Regions from separate parts of the Homo sapiens genome. Here region 2 is linked to region 1. Evidence: fine-mapped expression QTL. A gene starts in region 1. The other region holds a variant in brackets. All regions are shown on one strand. Distances are between the middles of the regions.

Region 1 (4,394 bases):
CACAATGCAATTTTCAAAGTAATAGTGGTGCAGCAGAGAGCAGAAGCACTGTCCCTTTGCAAAAAGTCTTTCTCTTTAACAATAACTTCTAGTGGTGATTTATGGTATGACTCAAATCTCTGTGGGGTAACAGAGTCACAGAAGAGCTAAGTGTTTTGCTTGAGAGCTATGAGGTAAGCCCTATATGAGGCTAAAAGAGGATGTTCTGTTTCCCAGTGTAGTTTTGGATTCCAAATCTGTATAACTTCTCATACTGAGTTCAAAGGAGGAAGAGAGACAGTTTCAGGGTTGAGAAGTAAAAGCAGAAAGGTAAACTTGTTGGAAAGCAGGGAATAGGCTTTAGAAAGTTTGCAAGACAGAAACTGCAGGGGTCGCATATATTACATGAATGAATGGGATGAAGTCGGGCTTAGCCTTAGGGCTAGAGTCAAAATCACTCATTTCTTTCAAAAGCAAAAACATAAAGTAGACAAGATTTGTGACTTCTTTTCATTTCTTTTTTTTCTTCACGCCCCTCCCAAATATTCCAACCACTCCAAATGTAATTACTATCAACAGCAGAGCCAGGAAAGTTAATTCAAGGGAAAGAATTTGAAAAGTCCTAAAAGTTTCCACTTTTCTTCCAGTTATACATCACAGTGTTGCTATTGGTCACTGTGATATTTAATAAGAGAAAGTGAATTTCCAGGTCAAGTTCTAAAGCACAAGAAGTAAACCAAATGCTTCTTGGGGCCAAGCAAGAACTTACACGAGGGAAGTTCCTAAAGACAGAACAACACCCATCTTAAGGTGTAGCCAGTGCTCAGCTCTGGTACATTCATAGTTCCCCAGAGAAATAAAATCCTCTCTGGCCAAGACTTTCAAATTTTCAAAGATACAACCCTGGATTTACTGTGAATCTCCTAGTTTTAAATGTGGCCAACTAATTAAAATGAAAAAAAAAAAAAGTAAACAGAGCTCATGCCAAACAATGTCTGTTGGCCTTAACCAGTGGGAGATGCCAGTTTGCAGTCTCTGGCCAGAAAAGTTCTTGTATGTAGCCTAGAAAATATGAGGGGCCTCGTTCAAATCACTCCATGTACACCCTACCCCCAGGAAGTGGCAGCCCTGGAGGCTGGTCCTCTAAATAGGCATCTCCCTCCTGCTGTGCCCCTGGCCTCTAATTCCTTTTATGAGTAAGTGCCTGTGTCAGAAATGTGATTTCCAGGCCTCTGACAGCACCCCCTTTTCACCCCCTATTTATACACACCCGCTCTGTGTGAATGAGCTAAAACCTCAGGTGGCGGGGATTTGGCTGCTGCGTGGCCCAGTGTGTGGCTGGGAGCTGCCCCTGAAAGGCTCTCCTATTTCCTCCTCTCTGCTCCAACCCTCTCTCCCACTCTCTCTATTTCTCCTTTGAAAATATTTCTTTCCCTTTTCTTTCTTTTCTCTCTTTTCCTCCTTCCCATTCCTCTCTCGTCTCATCTTTTTCTCACCTTTCTTCTCATTTCCTTCTTTCTCTACATTTCTCCCCCACTTTTCTCATTCTTTTTTCCGTTTCCTCTGTCGTCTCCACTCCTGTCCCCTCTCTCTGACTCTCCTTTCCTTTCCTGTTCCATCCTTTCCCCTCTCTTTCCTCCCCGCAGCACCCGGGAACTTGCGAGGGGACTTCGCTCACCAGGAATACACCAACACCGGCTTCGAGTATTTCTTGTGATGGGAGCGGAGGGTCAGGGAGCCCTTGCGCTCCACCAAGTCCGGTGGTCCGATCTCCAACCAGTGTTGCTTCCTGTCGCACCAGTCCTGGCAGGATCTGTCAAGGCTATCCATGGGAGCCCTCGAGGTACAGACCTCTGAGGAGTTCCCTATGCACCTGTCCTGCCCGGCAGGAACGTAAGTACCAAGATTCGGCGTCTCTTATCTCCTAAGCAACCTGGGGCGGGGCCAGTGGAGGGGCGGATCCCTCCAACCTGACGGCCAAACGTTTCCTAGACGTTGTCGTTACTGATAAGAAACTACATTTCCCAGAATGCAGTGAGGGTAGCGACCGGGCTACACAGGTGATGAAGGGGGGAACTGCATCCTGGGATCCGCAGTTTCGCCTGTCCACCCGCCAAATCCTAAGAGTGGCTGAGCGCAGTTATTGGGGAGTGGTAGGTCAGTTAAGGACCAAGGGAAGAGCAAATTCCCTGAACCCCGAGTGGGTCTGTTCGGGCTGTCTTTAGAGAAGTTCTTTTGTGTGTGTGTGTGTGTGTGTGTGTGTGTGTGTGTGTGTGTCCGAGTCTCACTCTGTCGCCCAGGCAGGCTGGAGTGCAGTGGCACGATCTTGGCTCACTGCAACCTCCGCCTCCCAGGTTCAAGCGATTCTCCTGCCTCAGCCTCCCAAGTAGCTGGGATTACAGGGTCTCGCCACCACACCCGGCTAATTTTTTGTATTTTTAGTAGAAACAGGGTTTCACCATGTTGGCCATGCTGGTCTCGAACTCCAGAACTCAAGTGATCCGTCCGCCTCGGTCTTCCAAACTGCTGGGATTACAGGCGTGAGCCACCGCGCCCAGCCTTTGGGGAAGTTCTTTTTACCGTCCATCATCCATTGCCACCACACCTTCTGCTTACGAGTTATTTATAATAAGTTTAACTAAAAGAGAACGAGAGAACATCCCCTGAAACCCAAAGTTTGTCATTCTATACAGCTTTCCTGCCTGCAAAAGAGGAGGAGCAGACTCATCCAGCAAATCACCTAAAAAGTTTGAAGATCAAAAAGCCTAGCTCCAGTTTCAGATCCTTCCCCTACCTTTCTGAACACTAGTTTCTTCCTCTGAAAAACGAAAGAGGGAACGGGACCGTAGAGTGGAGTGGGCACAAGAATCGCAAGTCCCTTCTGGCTATGACGCTGCAAGACTCTAGGTACAGTTTAGGACTCCGGGCATTCAGATCCCCGGGACTTGTCAAGTTCTCCTCATTGACATTTTTGATATTTCGTGACAACACAAATTCATCACATTTTTGTGCTGTGTGTTATATGTGGGAAGGAGATTTTAAAAAGATTGCCTTTTGAAGTTATTGGATAGCTGTGTTACAGAAGAAAACATTGCCTTCAAGAAGTTATTGGATAGATATGTTACAGAAGAAAAGACGTTTGTTTCATTTTTGACTTTGCAGGAAAAGAATATGTAACACATCAGAATTCTTCTCTCCTCCCTGGCCTTAGTCGAGTACCTGAGGGGCATTAAAGCACTTCCTCCTTGCAATCACTTACCCAGCATAGTCCTTAATACAGATATCTTCATTGTTGAATGAATGAATGAATGTTCATTATGTTTGATTACCTTAGGTTTACTTTCCAAAAGTGTCTTACTTGAGGAAGACCACATCTACACAAAAAAATCAAACTTTAAAACAGAGTAAGAGACCATTCACACTACAAATAGATTCTCGGTTTATAAAAGATGTGTTATAGTGCTCCCATAAATAGTGAGGCACTCTTCTGTATCAGATGGCACAAATTTGATTACATATAACTACTAAGTGCTTTTCCGTGGTCTGTGGTTCATAGTGTGGGTGCCTGTGGTATGCTAAGGTCTCTATTTTACTGACAGCCACAGTTAAAATATATTTCTTAAAACCAAATAAACAGTCCACCATCACCAGCCAAATGCTAGGAGAGTGCTGACTGCTATTTTAGCTGCTTTCTTCTAGGCAGAATGAAAAGAAAAACATAAGTTAACTTTAAAAGGGGAAATATGATCCATGTCAAGCTCAATTCTGTCCAATCAAAGCACAGAATATTGCTGTTGTTCCAAAAATATTATCATCATTGCTGTCATCTGTTCATGTGTTCATTTTACTTACGTTTAGAGTGGCGGTAACATAATATATGTGAAACCAATATGTCAGATCTCTGCAGACAATTTCTCTCAAAGATGGAAGCTGCCCAAGGCCAAGCTCTTTCCACAGTGCATAAGTACCACAGAGATTTAAAAGCTTTTCAGCACACCAAGGAGCAATAAGTTAAGAAAACATGCAAAACAAACATAGCTGGTTATTTTAGAGTTCCTTAAGCCAAGCCAACCACCTATTAGAGTTTGTGAATATGCTTTTTGTTATACTCACTTTCCTGTTTGTATCAAATTTATAAACTTCATTGTCTTCTGTGTCTACTAAATACTTTTCAACATCCTTGTCCTAGGATTTAGGATACTAATTCTGTGATATCCTCGAGTTTATGTGCATTCCATTCTCTTTGTATACACCAATACATACTGTAGAATTTTGGTTTCTTGATTCTTTATCAATAAAATAGGAATAGAACAGCACTTATTGCAGAGGGTTTTTTTGTTTTTTTTTTGTTTTGTTTTTTTTTTTTTTTGAGATGGAGTCTCACTCTGTCACCCAGGCTGGGGTGCAGTGGCACG
Region 2 (4,394 bases), 25 kb before region 1:
TAAAGCAATTTCATTTTTAATCAAACTGCCCCTTCCCTCCCACAGCAAGTTATTTCCTTTTGTTTAATAAAAGTCTTAGGCAAGTCTCTTCTTGACCACTACTGTCCCTGCCCCGCACTCCCTCTTTCTGCTGTGCCATATCAGGCATGACCTCTCACATTTAGGTTTTTAGGCATGTGACTGGACCCCGTGTCCTCTAAATTCCAGGACATACATATTAATCTCTCTGAGTGGTTCCCTTGAAACCTCTCTCAACTGGAGAAAGAGAGGCACAGAACCCACAACTACATGAATACTCTTTTAACTCTTCAGTCCCTTGTCTTTAAGGACATAACTACTCATACTGGTTTAATCTAATTTAGTCTCTTAGCAGGTCCTGCCTAGGTGGCCCAGATTCTTGCTTTAAGGCATGTGGTTCCTGCCAACTATCAAGAGTGTCTTTAGGCCTTTACCAAATCTCTGTGACAACAGGAAGAAGGACTTGCCCATCCTCTTGCTATATCCAGCCTCACACCTGGCATGTGAAGGTGTGGGGGCTTGGCGCCAGTATCCCCTCCTTTTCTTTACACTTGGGACCTTGGGTGAGTCATTTAAGATCTGTAAGTCTAGGTTTAGAACTAAATAATAATATATTTCTTGACAGCTTTATAGCTTTGTTGTGAAGAATGAAAAACAAGATGGATGAGCCAGTGCTTTATACACAGAAAGTCTATAGGGAAAAATGTAAATTGCTATTAAGATAGAGAATAGCAGTTCCATCAGAAATAGTGATTCCTCAGTCTATTTTCTTTTCTATTGAATACACATTCCAAATCTGGCAGGTGGAGGACAGGGTTTCAATGGCCATCAACAAAAAGACATACAGACAGTAAATACTACTATTTATTTACACATTCTCATTAAACCTGAGGCTTGACCACTGTAACGCATATAATATTGGGGAGGGAATGTTTGTGGTTCCTATACCTCATATCCCGCTTCATCTCACTTCCCCCACGATATGAGGTATAGGAATACCCAGAAACCAAGAGCATTTCTATATAGGAATCAAAAATGAATGTTTTTAAGGACCAAAAGTTCTTTAAAAACATCTTTAATATAGAAATCAAAAATAAATGTTTTTTAAGGACCAAAGTCTCTAAGTGCATGTCAAGCAATGCCTGAATTGCCCAGCTTACTCTTCTCCTGACCACAGCCCCATGCTGAAGAAAGCAAGGTGAAGCTGTGTTTGTGGGGGAATGGAGCAAGTGGATGTTGACTGAGTTGGGCATCACACTGCAGAGCCCCATCCACATGCTGGCTGATGACCCATGAGGCAGCCTGGTGCAAAGGGAAGAGGGTTGGGTGGAAACTGAGGAAATCATCAGATTCCCCTGAGATCTGGGCTATGGAGCAAGAGGTAAACCTGAGCAGAGAGAAATAGAGATGCCAAAGAGACTCTGTGTGTGCATGTGACACAGAGAGGTTGGGGTGGCGATGGGGATGCCTTGCTTTAGAGCTGTGTTAGTTCCTGCAAGTTTGCTCATTCTATATCCAGGCAGCTGTCACTTTATGATAAATCCCCATTCTCCAGGCGATCCTTATTACTCTCTGTCCACTGCAACTATAAGAGGAAAGGAGGAAATGGCACTGCCATGCTAAGCTAATTTGTCCTCATTACCTTGCAGAATGGAGAATCTTCTAGAACAATTTCCAATGTGGAATTATGCGTCTTTTTACACCTGCCCCATTTCAAATGCTGGTCTAAAACTAGCCCAGCCTTGGGGGGCGGGGGCAGAATGTGACACAAACCCAATCTTTTCATCACCTGTACGACCACCCTCATCAAATCACCAGCTCTTCATGCCCCGAGGCCATCCTCTAAGGCTAAATTGTCTTCAGCTAGCCACAAAGCTCGTGACATTGTAGGACCCAATTTGGGGGTCTCCTAGTTGTTGAGCTCTTGCCTTATGCTGACTGGACAGACACCTAGGTAGCCAAGCAGTAACGCACTCACCTCAATTAAAACAGGAATTACTTATGCCATAAATATTTTTCTTGTAACTGGATTGTACAAACATTATGACACTGTTAATAGCATGTTTTAATTACTCACAACTCCACCAGCTTAAGATAAGCACAAAACACTTGAAACCAAAGACCAGGGTATAAACTCTCCCTCTTCCACGCCCTAGCTGTGTGACTTTGAGTAAGTTGCTTAGTCTTTAAGAGCCTCTTTCCCCTCCTCTGTAATTAGTGATGGTTAATACCTACTTTGCAGGGTTATTGTGGAGGTGAAAGGAGACATCTAGCAGGATATTGCTGCTGTAGTGACAACAGCATCATAGCAACAGGAACAATTTCCTAGGCACTTTTATGTGCCAGGCACCATGCCACATACTCAACTTGCTTCATCTCATGTAATTCGCCCAATCACTTTGTGAGGTAGGCACATTTTACAGGTAATGTTGCTTCAGCACACAGTGACTAAGTCATCTAAGTAACTAACACAGTTAACGAGGGATGGTGCTGCACAAAACACTCCTCCCTTTACCTTTTTATGTTTCACTATGACAAAGATTTCAGACTT[C/A]AAACGAAGTAATAGCAACTACTTACTGGGGATTCATCGGTTCCCAGTCGCCGATATGTTGAATTACACAGTTTTTTAACTTTCTCAGGACCCTCTATATCATAACCTTTGGGAAAAGCTTCTCTGTCACGGTGCCTTAAGAAAAAATTAGGAGTCCGTTAAGAGATGTAGTTTATTTATTCTGTATTGCATTCAGATTTTTAAAAATTATCCAATGAAAATTTTCTATATTTGTAGTATTAAGTATAAATTTATTAGATTTGTGACATATAAAGTATTTTCCATCTCTTTTCAAGTAATGCTGAGGCTAATTCCTAAAAGCAACCTAGCATAAGTGATAAAACTAATAATATCACCCAAACAATACTTATCAAACACAGTAATTACTCAGTGATTCCAATGAACTGAATCCTATTTAATAATGTAGATTAGTTTACCAACAGTAAGTTCTAAAATAAGACATGGTAATATCTTGGAAAGGCAACTTTCCACTTTAGAAATTCTTTCTACCATGAATTTTAATTACAATTTTTTTCAAAACAAGACAGCAAAGTATTTGCCCATATTGATTTATAACCTGTGCTTCTGCTTCTAAAGAGGCAATAAAGGAAGCTGATAAACATGAGGTAGAAGAAAACAGTTCTTAAAAATGTAGATGGAAGAAGGAAAAAATATACCAAACATCTTGATTAAAAGAGTGATTAAGAATAATAAGAGGCAGGGAACAGTAACACACGCCTGTAATCTCAGCACTTTGGGAGGCAGGCAGATCCCTTGAGCCTAGAAGCTTCAAGACCAGCCTGGGAAACATGGCAAGACCCCATCTCTACAAAAAATACAAAAATCAGTTGGGCTTGGTGGCATGTGCCTGTAGTCCCAGCTACACGGGAGGCTGGGCTAGGAGGATCACCTCAGGGAGGTCAAGGCTGCAGTCAGCCATGATTGTGCCACTGAACTCCAGCCTGGGCAACAGAATAAGACCCTGTCTCAAAAAAGAAGAAGAAAGAAGGAGGAGGAGGAGGAAGAAGAAGAAGAAGAAGAAGAAGAAGAAGAAGAAGAAGAAGAAGAAGAAGAAGAAGAAGAAGAAGAAGAAGGAGGAGGAGGAGGAGGAGGAGGAGGAGGAGGAGGAGGAGGAGGAGGAGGAGGGGGGGAGGAGGAGGAAGAGGAGGAGGAGGAGAAGTAGGAGGGGAGGGGAGGGGGAGGGGAGGGGGAAGAAGGAAGAAGAGGATTTGGGGGTAGAGAAGGAAAAAGTAGGAGAAGTGGCTGGCAACTGAAGTAGCTATTTTTAATAGAACTTTCTTGAGTGAAATATAGGATGCTAAGACTAAGCAACCCTCAGAAGTTACTTTGCTTTAAGGGATACAGGGCTAGAATTGTTTAGGGGACACTCAAGTACCCGAGAATTCAATCATCCAGCCATTTGTTTATTCCACAAATGTTTTAAAATTCCTACTACATGCCAGGGACTTTGGTAGGTGTGGGGGATGCAGTGGGAAGTGAGTCTAATGGAGTCCCTGCCTTCAGTTGCTTGCAGTCTAGATAGAGAGACACAAAAATAAGAAAAATCTACAACATGGTAAGTGTGGGTAAAAATCTAGGTAAGAAGAATTGCTTCCCTTAACCTAGGTTGGGCACCGAATCCAAAGGGCATCCTCTTTCCTTCCCCACCCCCACTGGACTAGGGCTCAGCCCCTGCACTACATTCCCATTAACACTCCTGCCTCCCCACCTCTGAGCATGACAGCAGAGCTCTGCAGTAGAACCCAGCAGCAAGGGAGCCCAAGGTGGGGCGGCAAGCAAAACACACCTGAGCCCTCTTCTCTCC

Evidence for each region. PIP is the estimated chance that this variant, and not a neighbour inherited with it, causes the effect.
Region 2: its variant is the best candidate, but not a certain one, in a credible set for the expression of CFAP95 in testis (GTEx, PIP 0.50).

The regions. Positions count from the first base shown.
Region 1 is chr9:69,818,295-69,822,688 of GRCh38, reverse strand. CFAP95 (cilia and flagella associated protein 95) reads right to left here and starts at 1,872. Exons shown (of 6, transcript NM_001010940.3): 1 at 1,658-1,872. The coding sequence starts at 1,809. It overlaps CFAP95-DT (CFAP95 divergent transcript), which reads left to right and starts at 1,950. Exons shown (of 2, transcript NR_038833.1): 1 at 1,950-2,039; 2 at 2,422-3,284. RefSeq lists a silencer at 1,897-1,956.
Region 2 is chr9:69,842,827-69,847,220 of GRCh38, reverse strand. It overlaps CFAP95 (cilia and flagella associated protein 95), which reads right to left. Exons shown (of 6, transcript NM_001010940.3): 2 at 2,596-2,704. Among named protein-coding and RNA genes, the nearest start is that of CFAP95, 24 kb to the right of the region's middle. The variant C/A (reference allele first, on the strand shown) is at 2,570.